4 linked regions of the Homo sapiens genome follow. The protein of the gene in region 4 interacts with the protein of the main gene of each other region in a biochemical or structural test. Each region holds a gene or a part of one and is shown on either strand. Other genes may lie near its edges.

Evidence for each region. The genes of interacting proteins can lie anywhere in the genome.
Region 1: the proteins of SIPA1L2 (region 4) and CRHR1 interact in a test that uses a peptide from one of them, tested with the Homo sapiens proteins (one large-scale study listed by IntAct).
Region 2: the proteins of SIPA1L2 (region 4) and RGS12 interact in a test that uses a peptide from one of them, tested with the Homo sapiens proteins (one large-scale study listed by IntAct).
Region 3: the proteins of SIPA1L2 (region 4) and TECPR2 interact in a test that uses a peptide from one of them, tested with the Homo sapiens proteins (one large-scale study listed by IntAct).

Annotation. Positions count from the first base shown.
Region 1 is NC_000017.11:45,815,320-45,818,819, reverse strand, and holds part of CRHR1 (corticotropin-releasing factor receptor 1 isoform 2 precursor), read right to left. Parts: intron 2,358-3,500; coding exon 2,238-2,357; intron 1-2,237. Other genes in the region: LINC02210-CRHR1 (CRHR1-IT1-CRHR1 protein), read right to left, coding at 2,238-2,261.
Region 2 is NC_000004.12:3,436,021-3,438,216, forward strand, and holds part of RGS12 (regulator of G-protein signaling 12), read left to right. Parts: intron 1-2,196. UniProt on the Homo sapiens protein: Regulates G protein-coupled receptor signaling cascades. Inhibits signal transduction by increasing the GTPase activity of G protein alpha subunits, thereby driving them into their inactive GDP-bound form.
Region 3 is NC_000014.9:102,369,441-102,372,940, reverse strand, and holds part of TECPR2 (tectonin beta-propeller repeat-containing protein 2), read right to left. Parts: intron 3,198-3,500; exon of another isoform or gene 3,166-3,197; intron 2,525-3,165; exon of another isoform or gene 2,456-2,524; intron 1-2,455. UniProt on the Homo sapiens protein: Probably plays a role as positive regulator of autophagy.
Region 4 is NC_000001.11:232,397,465-232,400,299, forward strand, and holds the end of SIPA1L2 (signal-induced proliferation-associated 1-like protein 2), read right to left. Parts: intron 1,810-2,835; coding exon 1,663-1,809; 3' UTR 501-1,662; downstream 1-500.

The DNA of each region.
Region 1 (3,500 bases), on a different chromosome or scaffold from region 4:
CAGCAGGAGGGAGGGCATTAGGGAGAAGGCCTAGAAGTCCTGGCAGCAACTCATCAGTAAATGGATTAATTAGTGCTTAATGATGAGGTGCAGCTCTGGGTACCCACTTGTGACTGACTGCACGGGCGTGCTCCACCTCATCTGGCGCTGGAGGCACCTGGAAAGGGGTCTTCCAGCCCTGCCCTCACAGACTGACCCCATGTCGAGAGGCCATCACCCCAGCTCCTTTCCTGGGATCACAGAGGGAAGTGCGGGGGAGCCTAGAGAGCACCACACTCAATCCTCCCACCCATTCTGCAGGTGTAGAAACTGAGGCCCACAGAAGGTCTGTGCCAAGGGCTACTTAACCAGCTGCAGATGCAGCTGGAATGAGAACTTAGGACTCCTGACTGCCACTTCAGGCAGGGCCAGCAAGTGAAGTGTGTGCCCAGGCACTGAGGGCTGAAAATGTTTATCTGGAGCATGTCAAGTAACCCTTTGCAACGGGAGCAGAGGGAACTCATGGGGGGTGGCCAGGGCTGGCTGCAAAAGGTGACAGGGCCATGACCACAGACAGCCTGGCCGGCCCCACCCAGCAGCCTGAACACGGAGGCCACACAAGAGTGGGTTCCAAGTGAAGGAGTGACCAACTCAGATCTGAAACCTGAGGCTGGGCGGTGGCGCTGGGGAGTGGGGGCAGGTAGGCCCAGACACGAGGATCACTCTGGAAGTGGACATGACAGGAACTGGTGCCTCCTCCTGGAAGCTCCTCTGATGTGCAGATGCTGCCTCCTTCCTAGGGGCTCCAGAAGGACTCAGCCCCCAGCATCGTGAGAGTTATCGTCCCTGGGCTGTGACCCTGCCTCCAGGCTCTGCGACCTCCGATAGGTTATTAGCCTCTCTGTGCCTCAATTTCCTTATTACAAAATGGGCCTGACTATATTGGGGGCTGGCCAACTGTGCACCCCTTGGACTGACCTGGCCAAGAGGCCCTTCTTCCTTTCTGCACTTCCTCCCCTTGGCCCCCAAGCCCCTCCCAGTGTGTCTTCTCCCTCTCCCGAGTCCCTCCCATGGCCAGGACATGGTACAGACACACGAGGCTGCTAGATCTGGCTGCCCCAGCCTCCTGCCCTGCCCTGGCCTCCCAAGTCACTCCCTGGGGAGTCACTTTCTGGCTGGGTCTTCCTACTCCTCTGCTGTAGCCCCCAACCTTAACACCCCAAATCCATCTGGTAGAGGAAAGAGGGGCAGGAGAAGGAATCTGGGAGTTTTGAGCTGGAAGACATCTTAGAAGCCAAGCCATCCAGCCCTCTCCATCCTCAGATGAGGGGCTGAGGGCCAGATGAGGGGCAACAATGTGCTGGGAGGTCACACAGTGAGTCTTGGAGTAAACTACATGGTGTCTGGGCTCACCCCTGTGCCCTCTTGGGACTCTGAGTTCAAGACCACAAGGACCCAAGGGTGCACACAGGAGGCCCCAATTGCAGGGATCAGGCCCCCAGCCTCCCCTCAGGTAGGTTAGGGCTCCTGGCCCACAGCTGTTGCTCTCTTGATAAGCAGGGACCTGACTCATTGACAGGGGAGAGCAAATTAATTCTGAGAGTGGCAGGCGGAATAGCAGGGAGCTGCAAAGCCCGGCTCTGGGGGTTTCGGGCCTCCGGGGAGCCAGGTGTTTACATGAGGATCAAGTATCCGACGGACCCTGGGTCAACCCCGTCCTGCCCCACTCCACCTACAAATCCAGGATGCAAGTTGAGCCTGTGCCTGTGCATCTGAAACTCTGGGTCCCCTGCCTCCTGGCTGGAGGGCCCGGGGTAGGCCTCAGAACCTCTCGACTCAAGGTTCTTATCCACACAGCTGGGGCTCTGATGATTCCTGCCCTGCTTCATGGTATTACAGTAGGCTCAAACAGACTAACCTGAAGTTTAATGGCAGAAGAAAGTGCCAGACAGACGTGGATGCAAATTCCAGCTTCACCCCTTACCAGCTGCCAATGGGGCAAGTTCCCTAACCTCCCTGAGCCCCAGGGGCCTTAGTTATAGGAGGCGTGATAGTGTCTTGCAAGGGTATTGTGAGAATCACGAGTAATGAGCACAGGGCACCCAGGAGAATACAGCGCTGACCTTTGGAAAACAGGGGCGATCCCCACAAGAGGTATTACTGTTATTGTCATCGTCATTCTTCCTTCCCCCACCTCCAAGCTCTCCCCATCCTGTCCCACCTCCCAGCAGATGGTCCACCCTCCACTTCTTCCTTACTTGTGGTATTGTAGCGGACACCATAGAAAAAGGCAGGGCAGGGCCGAACCACTAGCTGCCCCGCAGGGCTGCGGGGCCAGCAGGTGCCAATGAGGTCCACGGATGCGTTGCACTGCAGTCCTGGGGGCAGAGACGGCTGGTAAGGCACAGCAAGATATCCGGCCAAGGCCCCAGGCAGGCAGAGGACATTCCAGAGTTCTGCCCACCTCCCCACTCGTTCCCACTCACACCAGCTAGGGACAGGATGACAACAATGACCAGTGCAGAAATGAGCTCATCCTATGCAAAGAAGACACAAGGGGAAGAAATCTGAATCTGATGCTATGGTACTAGGGAGCCAGCATGGGTTCCAGAGCAGAGGAGGAAGAGAGATGGCTGGAGGTGGTGTTAAAAGCTAAGGTCCTGGCATTTAGAGGAAGCCTGGGCATGCTTCTGGTCCCCTGCTCTGTAGCCTAAGGACACTTCTCTTGGTCCCTCGCATGGTGACAGCCTGGAGCTCTGAGACATCACAGGAACACCCTGGAACAGACCCATCCAATCATTGACCTAGCCCCTCACGTCTCTGCAATCAAACCACATCTACCCTGGCCCTGCAGGGAAGAATCAGCTAAATGAAGTTGGCCCTCCTTCCGGCTGGCCTGTTCCTTCTTCCGGCTGGCCTGTTAACCACACTTACTGACCATACGTCACGTGTACTTTGTTCTGTGCAGGGCCCTAGGACAGGACTGATGGAGAAGTGAGCTATGGAGAGGAAAGGGAGGGAGACACCATCTGGGGGAGTGGAAAGGACACACTGAACTGGGAGTCTGGGCCCACTGCTTCAGAATGGGCTGTGCCACTAATTTGCTGTGAGATCATAGGCAAGTCACTTGCCCTCTCTGGGCCTTAGTGTCTTGTCTTCATCTATAATAAAATCAAGTGGTTGAACCAGATCAGAAATTCTTAATCTCAGCCCACTGGAAACTTCAACAGTTCACAGAGACCCTGAATGTAATGAAAATATTGGTGTATACATGCATTTTAATGGGGAAATGGGCCCACGGCTTTCATTAGATTCTCAAAGGGGTCTGTGACTCAAAGAGATATAAACATCTGAACTAGAAAGAAGATGTCAAAGTCCCCTTCCAAATATTTGCTTTTTGGAGGAGAGAGAGAGAGCACGCGAGAGAGAGAGGATGTTGGGGCAGAGTTGAGGCCCAGTGACACTTCAGGAGGGGAGGGTGGATATGGCCTCCAAAGGGTGGGGGCTGGCACAGTCCTGGC
Region 2 (2,196 bases), on a different chromosome or scaffold from region 4:
ACTCCCTCGCCAATGCCCAGCAAATATTTGAGGAGCTCTATCCCAGCCCCAGCCCATCACACACAGTCATGATCCTGGCTGGGGACCCACACGGACAGGGGGACCTTGGGGGGGTCACACTCTGGAACTAAGGTTCTGGGGGTGCTCTCGTTCCCATGGGGGCCCATCAGCAGGAGTGCACAGGCCTTAGCAGGAGCCCGTGGGGTGCGCTGTGGTGGGAAGGCTGGGAAGGGAAGGGGCCTTGGGAGCCACAGTGGATTGTAGGGTCCCCGCCTCTGGCTCCCCTCGCTCCCCCCTTCCTGCCGTGTTCTCAGTGTGAGCCGGCTCAGCCTTGCCTGGGTGTCCTTGTGCCCTGCGAGCTTCCAAGGGGCGCTGGGGAGGCTTCACAGAGGAGGTGGCTGCGCTTGGCAGCACAGATGATGTGGAGCATGGAGGCAGAGGCTGAGCAAAGTGCCTGGGGGACGGGGTCCCTCGGGGGGCAGGAAGGGCGGGCAGTGGGAGAGGTGCCAGGCCTGGGTCTCGAAGGAGAGCCTGGGAGAGTTCAGGCCATGCCCCTGCCCCGGCCAGGCCAGTGCAGCCCCTGCTCCCGCTGTGCCTGCCAGGGTTCCTGACTCAGCTTTGAGGACCAGGGTGGGGCGGGGTCCTGCCCCAGGCCTAGGCCAGAGCAGCTGGCAGTGGCTGGCACAGAGACATTCATGGACAAGTGTCTGGGAGGCCTGGGGGCGACCGGCAGCCGGTGAGGGGCCTGCGCATGTGGAAAGAGGGGCCTTCCTGCTGCATCTTGTGGGGCCTCCAGCAGGACCCCCTCCTGGGAAGGCTGGACAGCACAGTCGGAGCCGGCAGGACCAGCCAGCCGAGGGCAGGGAGCCGTGGGGCGCCGGGGAGAGGTTCACAGGTGGCCCAAGCGGCAGGGAACAAGATCCCAGTGTGGCCTCAGGTCTGGATGTTTGGAGATGTGGCACCAGGAGTGAGACCAGGAGGCCAGGCCCCTCTGGAGGTGGTGCAGGCTCTGCTGGGTCCTCTGTGTTGCCATCCCTGCCAGGGAAATGCTGGGCAAGAAGGTGCTCCCCGGGCAGGCCCTGGCATGTAGGTGGTGAGGCAGCGTGCTGCTCAGGGCGGGGCCAGGCAGCTGAGTCACAGGCCTGGGGCTGGCTGCCCTGCACAGGAGGGCGAGGCTGGCTCCCGTAGGCAGGAAGGGCCTGGCTGTGGCCCCCTCCTTGTGATGTGGACATCCTTGGTCCATACAGAGCTGTCCTGTCTCCAGAAACAAGTGTTTCTCCATCCTGAGCACACTAGCTTCCTGGGGCCCTCAGGGGCCTGTCCTCCCATCTGTCCATGTGGGGCTGGCGGGGTAGAGCCGGGCTTCTGGACATGTGTGGTGTTGCAGGCCCCTTCAGAGCCCTATGAACACTCCAGGCAAATGCCCAAATGCCCACGGTATTGACCGGCGAGAGGGGGCAAACCCCTGCCTCTCCCCACACGATATCTCCCAGCCCTGCAGCCTGGCATCTGGAGCCATGCGGACCTGGTGACAAGAAGGAGATGGGCAGAACTGTCCCCTTGTCCCCTGGGGGCAGGGCTAGCTCCTAGCCCTGGCAGAACCTAGTAGGACACTTGTTGAATGAGCAGAGGCCTGACTGGGAGAAGTTTCTAGTCTCAGCTGCTCCACATGGACCCCTGGGCCTCCAGATGGCATCTCCACCGGGCCTGGCTGAGTAAGACACACAGGCCCCACACAGCTCCCACATGCTGGCTGGGCTGCTGCGTCGAGGCCAGGATGAGGGCCTCTGGGGCCACTGCTGGGACCTGTTCAAGAGAACGGGCTGGGCACGCTCAAGAGGGGAGTCACACCTTCCGCCCGCAGCCCGGACTTGTTCACAGATGCCTCATGGAGGCTGCTTCCGGAAGCTTGGACTGAGGGTGAGGAGGGGCACGCTGGGATTGGGGACCTTGGTGGCCACGGAGCCGCTGGGGCAGCAAGGACCCTGCGGCCATTTCAGGGACCTCAGAACTGTAGATCGAGGAGGGTCTTCACCTTCCCAGGCCTTCGATTCACCTGTGGAGGGCAGCAGTTGGTAGCAGGGACCCCCTGTCCCTGGTTCTCATGTGCCGGGGGCTGGCTCTTCCTGCCTCCTGTCTGCTGTGGGCCCAGGCCTGGGGCTCCTGCCACCCCATAGGCGCCTCAAGGCCTCCACC
Region 3 (3,500 bases), on a different chromosome or scaffold from region 4:
CACTATCAAAAAGTTGCTTTTTTTTTTGAGACTTGCTCCGTCGCCCATGCTGGAGTGCAGTGGCATGATCTTGGCTCACTGCAACCTCCGCCTCCTGGGTTCAAGTGATTCTTGTGCCTCAGCCTCCCGAGTAGCTGGGATTACAGGTGCCTGCCACCAGGCCTGGCTAATTTTTGTATTTTTAATAGAGATGGGGTTTCACCATGTTGATCATGCTGGTCTTGAACTCCTGATCTCAGGTGATCCACCCACCTTGGCCTCCCAAAGTGCTAGGATTACAGGCTTGAGCTACCACGCCCAGACTTGCTGGGATTACAGGTATGAACCACCATGCCCGGCCTCAAAAATTTGTTAATATAGAAAAGCACAAAGAAGGCTGGGCGCGGTGTCTCACACCTGTAAACCCCAGCACTTCAGGAGACTGAGTCAGGGCGGATCACCTGAGGTTGGGAGTTCAAAACCAGCCTGACCAACATGGAAAAACCCCATCTCTACTAAAAATACAAAATTACCTGGGCGTGGTGGCGCATGCCTGTAATCCCAGCCACTTGGGAGGCTGAGGCAGGAGAATCGCTTGAACCCAGAAGGCAGAGGTTGTGGTGAGCCAAGATTGTGCCATTGCACTCCAGCCTGGGCAACAAGAGTGAAACTCAATCTCAAAAAAAAAAAAGAAAAGAAAAGTACAAAGGCAGCTGGGTGCAGTAGGTCACACCTGTAATCCTAGCACTTTGGGAGGCCAAGGTGGGTAGATCACTTGAGGCCAGAAATTTGAGACCAGCCTGGGAAACATGGCAAGATCCTGACTCTGCAAAAAATACAAAAATTAGCCAGGTGTGGTGGTACACAGAGAATCGCTTGAGCCCAGGAGATCAAGGCTGCAGTGAGCTGATTATACCACTGTACTCCAGCCTGGGTGACAGAGTGAGACCCTATCTCAAAATAAAAGGACAAAGAAGTAAAGAAAAGTCACAATCTCATCATACTGAGATATGCCATGTACACAGATAGCTACAGATATATGTATATAAACATATATGCACACACACAGACTTTTTCACTTAATAAATCATGAGTATTTTCCATGTCATTAAATATTCCCCTAGAATGTGATTTTTAGTGACTATACAGAAAAACTGCAGAGAACACACTGTATGGATAAACCAAAATTTTCTCAACCAAAAGATTTTAATTTTGCCATCAAAAACAACAGAAATATATCCAAGTATATTCTTGGAGTACACTGCAAGAGGTGGAAATGTTGAATTAAAAAAAAATGTATTGCCAAACTGCCTTGAAGAATGTTCATATCAATTTATGCCTCACACGTTTTTCCAAAGGATATCTAGAGGCCCGTAAGCCATAGCACCCAGATGAGTCAGGACAGCCATGCCTGGGGGCCAGGTGCCCAAGAAGTCCCCAGCGGGCAGAAGAGAATCCATGCTATTTCCCTATCTGGGGGCCTCTGGATGAGCTTAGCACCAGGCTTGTCTGTCCTTCACCCACCATTCAGATAGGAGGAGCAGGTTGAGGCCAACTCCCAGCAAAACTGTCCTCCTGGCAGAAACAGTGTCTAGGACGGGCTGAGGAAAAGGCATAGAGCCGCTGTCTCACTGTCCTGCGCTAGGTTTGGGAAAAACAATGCAGACACAGCAAACATTTCTGCTAAGACTTTCTGCTCCTCCTCCTTACCCAATGTTCACCCAACTCCATGTTCCACCTCACCCAACCCCCAGGTCTCAGACCCACAGCCACAGAACTGACCCTCTTTCCACCGAGGAAGAACTGCACAATGAGTGGCTAATGATACTGAAGTGAAAAAGACCCAAGTTCAAATCCCAATGCTCCTAAAACTACCTGAGGCACCCTGGAATAACTGCTCAACCTCTCTAGATCTCCAATTACCATCTGAAATGGGATTAGTAAAACTTACATCCTAGCTATAAACACAGAGTAAATGAACAATGTCAAAGACACTTACCTATCTTGTATCTTCTACCAGTTGCCTGGGCCATGCTGACCAAGCCAGAAAAGGAGCATCATCCCTGATCCCTCCTCCTCTCCTCTCCATGTCCCCGATTCTCCATTCAGTACATCTCCCACACACCTCAGTGTGTCACCCCTAGCTCGGGCCACCATTACCTCTCACCTGCAGCTCTCTCTGGTGCCCAGCTCATCTGCCCGCCTCTCCCTCCCCGTCATCCACGTGGCAAACAGAGGGATTTTCCTGATGTGCAAAGCTGATGTCATCACTCCCTTGCTTAACACTCTGCAGTGGTCCCCATCTTCCTCCTGCTAAAGCCCAAGTGTTGCTGGCTTACAAGAACCTTGGTGATCTGGCCTCTGCCACCCGAGGATCTCTCACTTGTCCTCCAGCCACACTGAATTGCTTCTAATTACAACAGGCCTGGCCTCTCACGTCCTGGCCTTCACACCTTCTACTCCCTATCTCTGGCAGGCACTTTCGTATCTGCTTTAGCTCATGAGATCTCCTAGCAAGCAAGCGGAAGTACTGAGCTCTTCACCAGTAAGTATTGCCTAATGTTATTTCCTCCTTTAAAAATCTTATTACCGGCCGGGTGTGGTGGTTCACGCGTGTAATCCCAGCACTTTGGGAGCCTGAGGTGGGTGGATCACCTGAGGTCAGGAGTTTGAGACCAGCATGACCAACTTGGTGAAACCTCATCTCTATTAAAACACAAAAATTAGCTGGGCATGGTGGGAGGTGCCCGTAATCTCAGCTACTCAGGAGGCTGAGGCAGGAGAATCGCTTGAACCCAGGAGGCAGAGGTTCCAGTGAACCAAGATTGTGCCATTGCACTCCAGCCTGGGCAACAAGAGCGAAACTCTGTCTCAAAAAAAAAAAAGTTATTCCTCAGCCAGGCACAGTGGCTCACATCTGTAATCCCAGTACTTTGGGAGGTTGAGGTGGGCAGATCACTTGAGCCCAAGGGTTTGTTTGTTTGCTTGTTTGTTTATTTATTTTTTTGAGACAGAGTCTCACTCTGTCGCCCAGGCTGGAGTACAGTGATGCGATCTCGGCTCACTGCAAGCTCCGCCTCCCGGGTTCATGCCATTCTGCCTCAGCCTCCTGAGTAGCTGGGACTACAGGCACCTGCCACCACGCCTGGCTAATTTTTTGTTTTTTTGTTTTTTTGTTTTTTTTAGTAGAGACGGGGTTTCACCGTGTTAGCCAGGATGGTCTCAATCTCCTGATCTTGTGATCCACCCGCCTCGGCCTCCCAAAGTGCTGGGATTACAGGCGTGAGCCACTGCACTTGGCCGAGCCCAGGGGTTTGACATCAGCCTGGGCAACATGACAAAACTCTGTCTCTACAAAAAATACAAAAAAGTAGCCAGGTGTGGTGGTGCGTGCCTGTAGTACCATCTACTCAGGAGGCTGAGGCACAAGAATCAATTGAGCCCGGAGGATCGACTGAACCTGGAGGATCCATTGAGCCCGGGAGTTCGAGGCTGCAGTGAGCCATGATCAAGCCACTGCA
Region 4 (2,835 bases):
CCCGAGTAGCTGGGATTACAGGCATGTGCCACCATGCCCGGCTAATTTTGTACTTTTAGTAGAGACAGGGTTTCTCCATGTTGGTCAGGCTGGTCTTGAACTCCTAACCTCAGGTGATCCACCCGCCTTGGCCTCTCAAAGTGCTGGCAACACCAAAGTGTTATTTTATTTTATTTTTTTAAAGGCAGTCTTGCGTAAATTACTTCACTTGACCCACAGTTCATGTGGTTGTAAATGGGAACCCCACCTCCTACCTATGAAGGATAGATACCATTGGGGTTAAATGAGATGGATGAAAAGTTCAGAGAATAGTGTCCGCCACACAGCAGCTATTAAAAACTGCTAGGTACTCCTTCCTGAAATCGATCTGGGATTCTATGAGAAAGGAGCTGAACAGTATTTAATACAAATCAAGGTTCTAAATGACCTGAAATAAATTCACATACAGTCAGACTGTTGACATGTTAGATCACAAAAAATCTAGTCACCTGACAACACCATTTCTTATGTGGACTTCTTTTAAACATTTATTAAAAAAGCAAAATGTATGTTCATCTCAAATCTAACAGTTAAAAATGGTAAAGCAATACAAACAATGTGTTACTAGCAGCATCCAGTCGTTAGAATCTCTCACCCTGCTTCTCGGTCTGATCTGTGCAAGCTCAGTCTCTTCTGAGCCTGCAGCTACCTCCATCCCTCATCGTAGTGCAGGCCAAACCAAATTTTATAAAATTAACAATTTAAGGTTAAATAAGCTTAAATAAGGGTGTTAAATACAAGACACTTCATCAAAGCTTCTGTACAAAGATAAACAAATCTGGCATTGTACAAGTGGTTCCGCTGGCTCACAGCACACAGGGAAGTTCTAGTGAGTAAGCAGATTCACTCTCATTTCTTTCCAGCAGAGCAACTATACAAAAGTGAACTAAGAGTTGAAGTGACTACTGACCACTCGGTGAGCCATTTACAAGGCATATGTATCTTTTTTTTGTTTTTAATCAGAACACTGTTAATATTCAGGCACCATTTGTTCCTGCAAATAAATAAGTCTCTAAGGTAACTGCATCTGAACTAGTGTTAAACACAACAGTGCTTTTTTTTTTTTTTAATCCCCCCACAAAGCTTTTCCAACTATGTACTATGCCTCCTTTCTTATTGCTATGGTAATGTGGCTGTGGAAATAAAACTACTGTACATCCAAAAAAATAGAGCACCTTTAACATTAAAGTATATGTCTGATTATTTGTTCTCATGTTTATTTTACAATACTAAAGCCCAAACTATGGTAAATTGCTTTACATCTCTACCAGGTCACCTGATATACAGGAAATAAAACTCAACTATCTTCCCTCTTGAGGTAAGCCCAAGCCAGAGCACTGTTTTAGCAGAGTCTAAAAGAAAAAGGTCTCAACTGTCGCCAGGGTTTACATTCATCTTCACACCAGGAGTTACATTCATTCATCTTCACATCGGCGCTGCTCTCTGCCGTGGTTACCGAGAAAGAGTCGAGGCTCCCTATCCTGCTGTGGTGAATGGTGCTACACAGAATGGAACAGCAAAAACATCTACGATTGGTTGAAAGCACACAGAAAAACCACATGTTTGTGACTTCAAAGGGACAAGGGGCATTTCCCAGTGGTCCCTTGATGAGGTGCGGATTGGCTAAGATTTTTTGTCGATGGTGGTGAAAAACCATTCTGTGAATTTCCGCAGCTGAGCTGTCGCGGTCTGGGACTCCTCCTGCAGTCTCATGTTGTCCTGTCTCAGGTGCTGCACTTCTGCTTGGAGAACGGCCTTGTCTTGTTTTTCCTGGTCAGAGCAGAAATAAACTGAGTCATGGAGACTGATCGATACATTCATTCCTCCTAAGCTGGGCTACGAGAATCTTTGATTCTTATTTTTACTTATGTACTTTTTGAGGGGAGAAGGGGTGACTTTCTTTAGTGAGGGGACTTTTCTGATCCTGATTCCTGCTGATGACAAAGGGATGGGAATGAACACTCCACACACCCTGTTCTTTCATCCCACTCTGCTCCCATGGGGTGCTAAGATAGCCTTTATATAGGAAGGGTGTTCATCATAGTTTATATTACCCTCTATCCAAAAAAGGGAGACTACAGGGAGGTTAAAGGTAATACCCTTTTGACAAATGCACAAAACTTTCTAAGTAGAAAATTGGAATTAGCAGAGCTGTTACATATGTTTATAATAAAATATGTACTTAGGTCTTTCATTCCATCAAGCTTTCCTGCTATACTATATTTCCATAATGACCCTTAAAATCTGCTATTAAAAACTGTGTAAAAATAATCAAGACTTTCAGAAGAATCACATCTGGAGTTTCCAACATGTAGCAATAAAAAAATGTATAGCAGCAGTTTCAGTTCCCCCCCTGCTGAAAGGGATGCCTTGCCCTAAATGAATAGAGGGGTCACTGTCAGATTGTAATAATCGGTATTTCTGTAACGGGATCTAACTCAACCACTACAGCCACCACATGCCACCCCCAGCACTGTGCAGGAGCATTGAGTGAGGTGAGTGGACGCCCCCACCCTTGGCATATCTGGTCCTGCCCTCAAGGCTTCCTCGTTTCCTGAGCCCTTCCAAGGCCCTCCTCAATACCACCTGCCTGGTCACTGGCCCAAAAGACACTGGTCCTCAGAGGAGGCCTGAATCAGAGCTGACCACTCACTTTGCTGTAAGGAGCAACTGCAGCCCACCCTGGATAGACTCACTTCACTCTAAGAAGCAGCTGCAGCCCACCCTGGATACTGACTCTCCCCGGACATTCCTCACCACGACTCTCAGTCCCAAGACAGTCTGAGTCCCACAGCT